2 linked regions of the Homo sapiens genome follow. The protein of the gene in region 1 purifies or fractionates together with the protein of each later gene. This does not show direct contact. Each region holds a gene or a part of one and is shown on either strand. Other genes may lie near its edges.

What was found.
Region 2: the proteins of DSG3 (region 1) and SYT11 purify together in Homo sapiens (co-immunoprecipitation; one large-scale study listed by IntAct). This does not show direct contact.

Annotation. Positions count from the first base shown.
Region 1 is NC_000018.10:31,468,241-31,471,740, reverse strand, and holds part of DSG3 (desmoglein-3 preproprotein), read right to left. Parts: intron 2,653-3,500; coding exon 2,392-2,652; intron 1-2,391. UniProt on the Homo sapiens protein: A component of desmosome cell-cell junctions which are required for positive regulation of cellular adhesion. Required for adherens and desmosome junction assembly in response to mechanical force in keratinocytes.
Region 2 is NC_000001.11:155,880,067-155,883,566, reverse strand, and holds part of SYT11 (synaptotagmin-11), read right to left. Parts: intron 3,068-3,500; coding exon 2,944-3,067; intron 2,379-2,943; coding exon of another isoform or gene 2,370-2,378; coding exon 2,059-2,369; 3' UTR 1-2,058. UniProt on the Homo sapiens protein: Synaptotagmin family member involved in vesicular and membrane trafficking which does not bind Ca(2+). Inhibits clathrin-mediated and bulk endocytosis, functions to ensure precision in vesicle retrieval.

The DNA.
Region 1 (3,500 bases):
ATTTAAGAATTTCTTAGTTGTGGCTTAAGCTTGGAGGACTCTTCTGGCAGCGTAAATATCTTTCTGTGCACATCCTTGGCAATAAAGATTAATGTCATTCTCATGTGAACTGACCAAGAGTGAAATACTTATTCTTGAAAGCAGGTGTTTCCCACACTTTGTTGTCAGTGGCCCCACTGCCACCTCTGCCCTGCCAAGGCCACCTGAATCCTAATGTTTCAACTCTCTTCACTTAGAGGCAGCTTAGTGAGGGGTTTAAGCATGCAGCCTCCGAAGTCAGATTCTAGGGTTTAAATTTCGGCTGTACCACTTAACAGCTATGTAATGTTGGGCATGTAATATCATCCTTCTTTGCTCAGTTAACTCATCCATAAAATGGGGGAATAAATAGTATCTACATCATAGGTTGTTATGAGGATTGAATTAATATAGGTAAAGGCCCAACTCCTTAATACTATTTTTTTAGGGTTTAAGTTTCAACATATGAATTTTTTTGGGGGGACACACACATTCAGACCATAACAATTAATCTCCCAATCCTCTCCAGGGGCCACTGTAATGCACTGCACACTTGTCCTTTATTTTCCAGTCTCATGTCACAGCTCGAAATCTGACCTTCATCATCTCTCTTGAACTTTTACAATGACCTCTTAAGTGTTCTTTCCTTTCTAATTTACACTGTTATACTGTACACACTGTTGCCAGGGTTGTCTTTCTAAAATACAAATATGATCATGTTAGTCTTTTATTCAAATGCTTTTAGCAGCTCCTCTTTCTCATAGGATAAAGTACAAACACCACAGCATGTGTATGTAGCCCTTTCAAATTAGTCCCAATGCATTCTCTGTTGCTCCTTCACTTTCCACAATTTCCCCGCGCTTTAGCCTTCGAAGGCTGTGTGATTCCTAAAACAGAAAATACTAAGTGTTTTCTGGCCTTGGCTGATGCTGTCAATTTTTGGAAATGCCTTTTCCATTTTTTATACTGATTATATCCTAATCATTCTTCAAGGCTCAATTGAATGATTCCTCTATTCCGTGAAATGTTCTGTAATTACCCCTTTGTAGTAATTTCTATTACAGCTTTATCATGGTATTTTTCCCCTATAGTTAGACATGCATGAAAACCAAAATCAAGTTTCCTTTTCAGCTAGAAGCTAGCATAGTGATTCACATAGAGGTACTTAAAAATTTCTGGTTCTTGAACTTGATTAATACGATATTGAAAAACCAAATCTCTGAGTGTCAATTTCAGCTCTTAAACTAAATGGTGTATAATAACTTTAGAATAGTAAATGCTTTTGGAGAATAAGGAAGGGAAAAATATAGCATGTGTGGCAATTAGCTGTATCTATAGCAATTTATTTCTTTTTAAAAAAAGGGACCTGAAAAAATATTGCAAAACATTCATATCTGTTCAGTTGAAGTGATGGTTGTATGTGTAGTTGTCTACACATTTTCTCTACTTTTTGTGGTTTTAAAATTAATAATCATATAATTAATTTTAACTCTAAAACTGTGATTTTTATAATAAATTAAGAAAGTGTGAATTTAGCAAGGATTTCTCTTGTTTATACAAGAATTAGTCAGGAAGTTCTTTTAAATAGAGACCTCTTACAATCAAATACTATTTGATTTATATGATTTTGATTCAAATACAACTTTTCAGAAACCTATCTATTGAATAAATTTTACCTTTATTGGAAAAGGATACTTACGCATAGTTTTCTAAATGTGTTTAATAAACTTAGTTATATTAAATGTGAAAGTATTAAAGGGGATGCATATTCAGATGGCAATCTATTTTGAGGAAATGCTAGATGAAGCAATAACTTCTCAGAACCTAGCTATCTTAATAGCATATGATATTAATATTAATATCATATGCTATTGATTAATATTAGTGGGGGTTAATTAATTAATTAATATTAATAGCATGTGGTGATATCTTAATAGCCTATGATACCCTATTTGTATTTCCCTAACTTTGTTTGACTAGTGTTCTCTTTTTATCTTAGAATCTCATGAGATGTAATGAATATAGAGAAAACATCTTAGAAAGTGCCACACTCTTGGATAAAGCCATAATTTTGACCATGAACATTACTAACAGTGTGTAGAAAGTCTTCATGATTTGCTTTTCTCTTGATTATCTTGTGCTGTCTTCTAAATGTCTGACATATATAACTTGTGTTGCTATATGAATATAGACTGTTAGCAAGCGACATGTTACACATTTCAGATTCTTTCTGAAAATGCCATTTTCCCCTAGCTTTACCTATAAAACATCAGAGAATATTCTTTCCCCATTGCACAGATGAGCAGGGCAGCATGGAGGCCTTTGCAAATGAGGACACCTGGTCCAACAGAGAATGAAACATTGGCTACTCACACAGCAGCAGCAGGAGACCAAGGAGCAGCAGGCCGATGGCGGCAGGCCCCAGCCTCCCTGAGTGCGGCCTGCCATACCTGGTCCCAGGGCTTGTGGTTGGGTAAGAAGTTCCACAGATGCCCCTGTTGTCACACTGACAGACTTCCAGTGTCAAGCTGCGTGGCATCTCACACCGATTGTTCTGACTGTCTGTAAGTACCAGGGAGATGTGGTATACTCCAGGAGGTATCTGTTCCTGGGCTCTGAGGAGGGCCGAGGTAGCTGTAGAGAAAGAATCATGCAAATCAACAGTAGGACGAAGTGTCTTTTCAGTCTATTTTGTGTTGCTATAACAGAATATCACAGACTGGATAATTCATAAAGAAAACACATTTATTTCTCACAGTTTTGAAGGTTGGGAAGCTCAATATCAAGGTGTCAGAATCTGACAAAGGCCTTTGGACTTCATCATCCCACGGTGGAAGGTGGAAGGACAAGAGAGCATGAGAGCACGTGGGGGCTGAACTCACCCTTATAACAACTCACTCTTACTGTAATGAACCCACTCCCATGGTAACACCATTAATCCATGCATGAGGACAGAGCTCTCATGACCTCATTTCCTCTTACAGGTCTCACCTCTCAACACTACTGCAGTGGGGATTAAGTTTTCAACACATGAGCTTTGGAAGACCTATTCCAACCACAGCAGTGTCTTACACTCTTACTACTTATTTTCATTAGCAGAGTTAGTTGCCACAAACAATAGGGTTGATAATAGAGTGATGTTTGAGCAGTGATGAGGGCTATAATGGGTTCAAGTGGGTAAATCTGTCTACACCTGCCTCCTTGTCCTCTCTGTTGCAGGTAGGCCAATTATTCTCTCCCATGAAACTCAGTTCTACTCTGCTTTTCCCACTAAAGAAGATGGGCGACATCATTTAGAGTCAGGTACTCCTCTTCTGGGGCTTAACCACTCTCTTGTATGTCTGCACCAATCCTTGGACTTGTGTGGCCCTTTGAGTGTTAGTGTTCCTGACTTTGTGTTCTTGTGTTTTACTTATCAAGACTTTCAACTTTGGCTGCTACTACCTCAAGTGCTCTTCCTGGTTCTTATCCCGTGAGCTGCA
Region 2 (3,500 bases), on another chromosome or scaffold:
AGTTTATTTTAATTAATTAATTAATTAATTTTTGAGACAGGATCTCACTCTGTTACCCAGCCCAGAGTGCAGTGGCATGATCATGGCTCACTGCAGCCTCTACCTCTGGGCTCAAATGATCCTCCCACCTCAGCCTCCTGAATAGCTGGGACCACAGGCGTGCAGCACCACACCTAGTTAATTTTTTGTATTTTTGATAGAGATGGAGTTTCGTCATGTAGCCCAGGCTGGTCTTGAACTCCTGGGCTCAAGCGATCTTTCCACCTCGGCCTCCCAAAATACTGGGATTACAGGCGTGAGCCACTGCGCCCGGCCCCAAGTTTACCTATTATCCATGGAGTCTGTGCCATCTGCAAAGTCTCAACGTTGGAGACACAGCTGCTGTAGGAGTAAAGAGACTTGAATTCTAATCCCAGAAAGATGCTGAATCTCTCTCAACCTCTATTGCCCATTGGTAGAAGAAGAATTGCATCCTGTAGTTCCTCCATCCCTCCACCATGTGGTAAGACATAAATTCCAAGAATTATGCAGCTCGTTTTGAGGAAAAGAATGCTCTGAAAGAATCCAACTTATCTTCATTCACTCAGTCACACTGTTATTTTTTTAAGAGCTAAATTTTTATTGAAAAATTTAAGGAGAACTTCTGAGGGCCCCTGTTTTATGAAGCAAAGCTAACCTCATTACAACATCTAAGCTATTTGAGAAGACTCTAAAGCATCTCCATGGTCGGCATTTCCAGAAAAACAAAGGCCAGTGTAATTCTTCAAACCTCTGATGACTTCCAACCCATCAACCAAGAAATGGCTGTCACTACAGTAGATAGCTGCAAAGGGGAATGGCTGTCGTCACTTGTCTCCTCTCCTTGTCCTTATACCTGAAAACAGCTTTTGGGATCAGCTGGATGTGTTCATTGGTACTATCCTATAGCTGAATTTGAAGTTTCCAAAGCTCCTTTTAGAGAAGTCATCAAGTTTGATAAAATCCAAGTTCTGATGTCTTGGATGCATAAGTCTGATGTATTCTCTGTGCTTCAGTTAGGTCTGTCAGTTAATTATAGACTGCCTTTTACTACTTCATAGCAGAAGAGCTGATAGCAAAAATACCCCATTTCTCAATTCCTCTTTCTCCTGCAAACCTTGCCTCATCCACCCCACCTTTGTTTCTTGGCTTACTGCAGACCTCTAGACCTTGAGGTCAAAGAGCAGAGATATAAGAGGCAATAAAAAGAAAAGATGGGAATGATGAAAACATGAGGTTTTATAAGAGCAAAATTTTCTTCTGCAGAGGTGGGGAGTGGGAGAAATTCTCCAGAGAAGCCCAATAAAAAGAAGCCAATTTCAGGTAATCAGCAAATACAATTCAGCACAAAACACAATTTCCATGGATTAAAATCTGCAACTTGATATTGGCAGTTAGGCTAATTTCTTCAGTTTGTATTAGACATGCAAGTATATGGTTACATTGTTATATATAGATTTATAGGGGTCTTTCCCTCTCTTTTGTCCCCCATTAAAAAAAAAAAACAAAACAAAACCAGAGGCCGGGCACGGTGGCTCGCACCTGTAATCCCAGCACTTTGGGAGGCCGAGGCGGGTGGATCACCTGAGGTCTGGAATTCGAGACCAGCCTGGCCAACATGGTGAAACCCATCTCTACTGAAAATACAAAAAATTAGCCGGGCATGCTCGTGGGTGCCTGTAATCCCAGCTACTTGGGAGGCTGAGGGAGGAGAATCACTTGAACCTGGAGGGCAGAGGTTGCAGTGAGTTGAGATCTCACCATTGCACTCCAGCCCGGGCAACAAGAGCGAAACTCCACCTCAAAAAAAATAAAGTAAAATAAAAGATTCTAGCGCCTTGCAAAGCAGAAAAAAAAACATCATTGCTAAGAACTGATCTGCAGCTGTGGTCATATAGGGTGTTCTTTGTGGAATTTGTTTTGTAAGAAATTTTCTTCTACAACTAAAATGAGGTTTGGAGTCCACTTCTCTGTCATCTTTTTCCCCTCCACATCCCTCCCCAGCTTGGCCCCCGGGGATTAGAGGAGAGAAGAACAGGATTAGTACTCGCTCAGACTGTGCCACTTGGCCACAGGCTTGCGGGGGCTCTCGCAGACCTCTCTCCAGTGTTCAGCACCACTGGCTGTGACACTGTGTGCCCCCAGGATCAGCCTCCCCACCACCTCATTCTTGGTGGTGCGATCGAAGTCGATAACGAGGAACTCGATGCTGATATCAGGCAGGAGGTCAGTGGGGATGTCGTAGATGAAAGATTCATTGAAGATGGGGTTCAAAGTGCACTTCTTCACATGGGTTTTCTTCTTGGCAATGCGCTTTCTGCCGTAGTAGACGTTCACCTTGACATAAGGATCTGGGGCCCCCAAAGAGATAAGAAAAAGGGAGACAGACCTATGACACAGTCCTCTCCTATGTAATGGTAATTTCATGTTGGGAAAGGGGGGGCTCTGTTGTTCGTATCTTTGATGGCCATCCCATGTGTTCTTTAGTGATTGCACAATAAACACACACTGACTATATGTGAGTCTGCCTGCCTGGATGAGGGGCCAAGGAAACCAAGCAGGAATAGAACAGAACAACTTTCTCAGGTTAGGTCTGAAGAAATCCCATGATACCAAGAAGTATATTAAAGGGCACAGAGACAAATGCCTGCAGCCTTTTTGAGAAGTCTCTCTTAGCACCTGGCATGAATATTATTTAGGATACCTTGCCAAATGTAAAGACCCCATTTGTTCAACTGAAGAATCTTCCTAGCCAGGGAAATCTATTGGACGTAGATACTCATCAGGAAGAGAATGTCTACAGAAAGAGGAGCAGATTAAAAGTGAAAGAGGCAAGGATCTTGAAGTGTGGAGGTCTATCTGGGCCACAGGCAAGGAGTCGGGGATGGTTCAGACAGTAAGAAATAGGTTGAAGTAAATAGCTGCTACCTGAGAGACCGGTGATATCCATCTTCGGCAAGTGTCTGGCTTTGAGGACCACCACTGTCATTCTCTGTGCCACAGGCTGATATGACAGAGACACCTGGAGCTCCCCTCTGCTGATGCACTTCTGTGAGGAAAAAATGGCAGGTGAGAATCCTGGCAGAGGGTGCAGGGCAGAGCACAAAAAGTGTGCAGAGCAGTGGGAAGAGTCTGGGGGAGGACAAGTGCAGGGATGATAAGTTTTTTGGAAAGATGCTCATCCCCTGGAAAGGTGTTATGATTTTATTTAACAAGGAGGGAGAAAGGAAACATTATAACCATAATTCTGATATTAAATAATTTGCATGGAGAGCCCACATAGCCTTGGATTTATGAGCATGACCTCTGGAGCCAGATTAGCCTGGATTCAAATCCTGACTATTTCTCTTTTTTTTTGAGACAGGTTCTCACTCTGTTGCCCAGATTGGAATTCAGTGACGTGATCTTGGCTCACTGCAGCCTCCATCTCCTGGACTCTAGCAATCCTCCCACCTCAGCCTCCTGAGTAGCTAGGACTACAG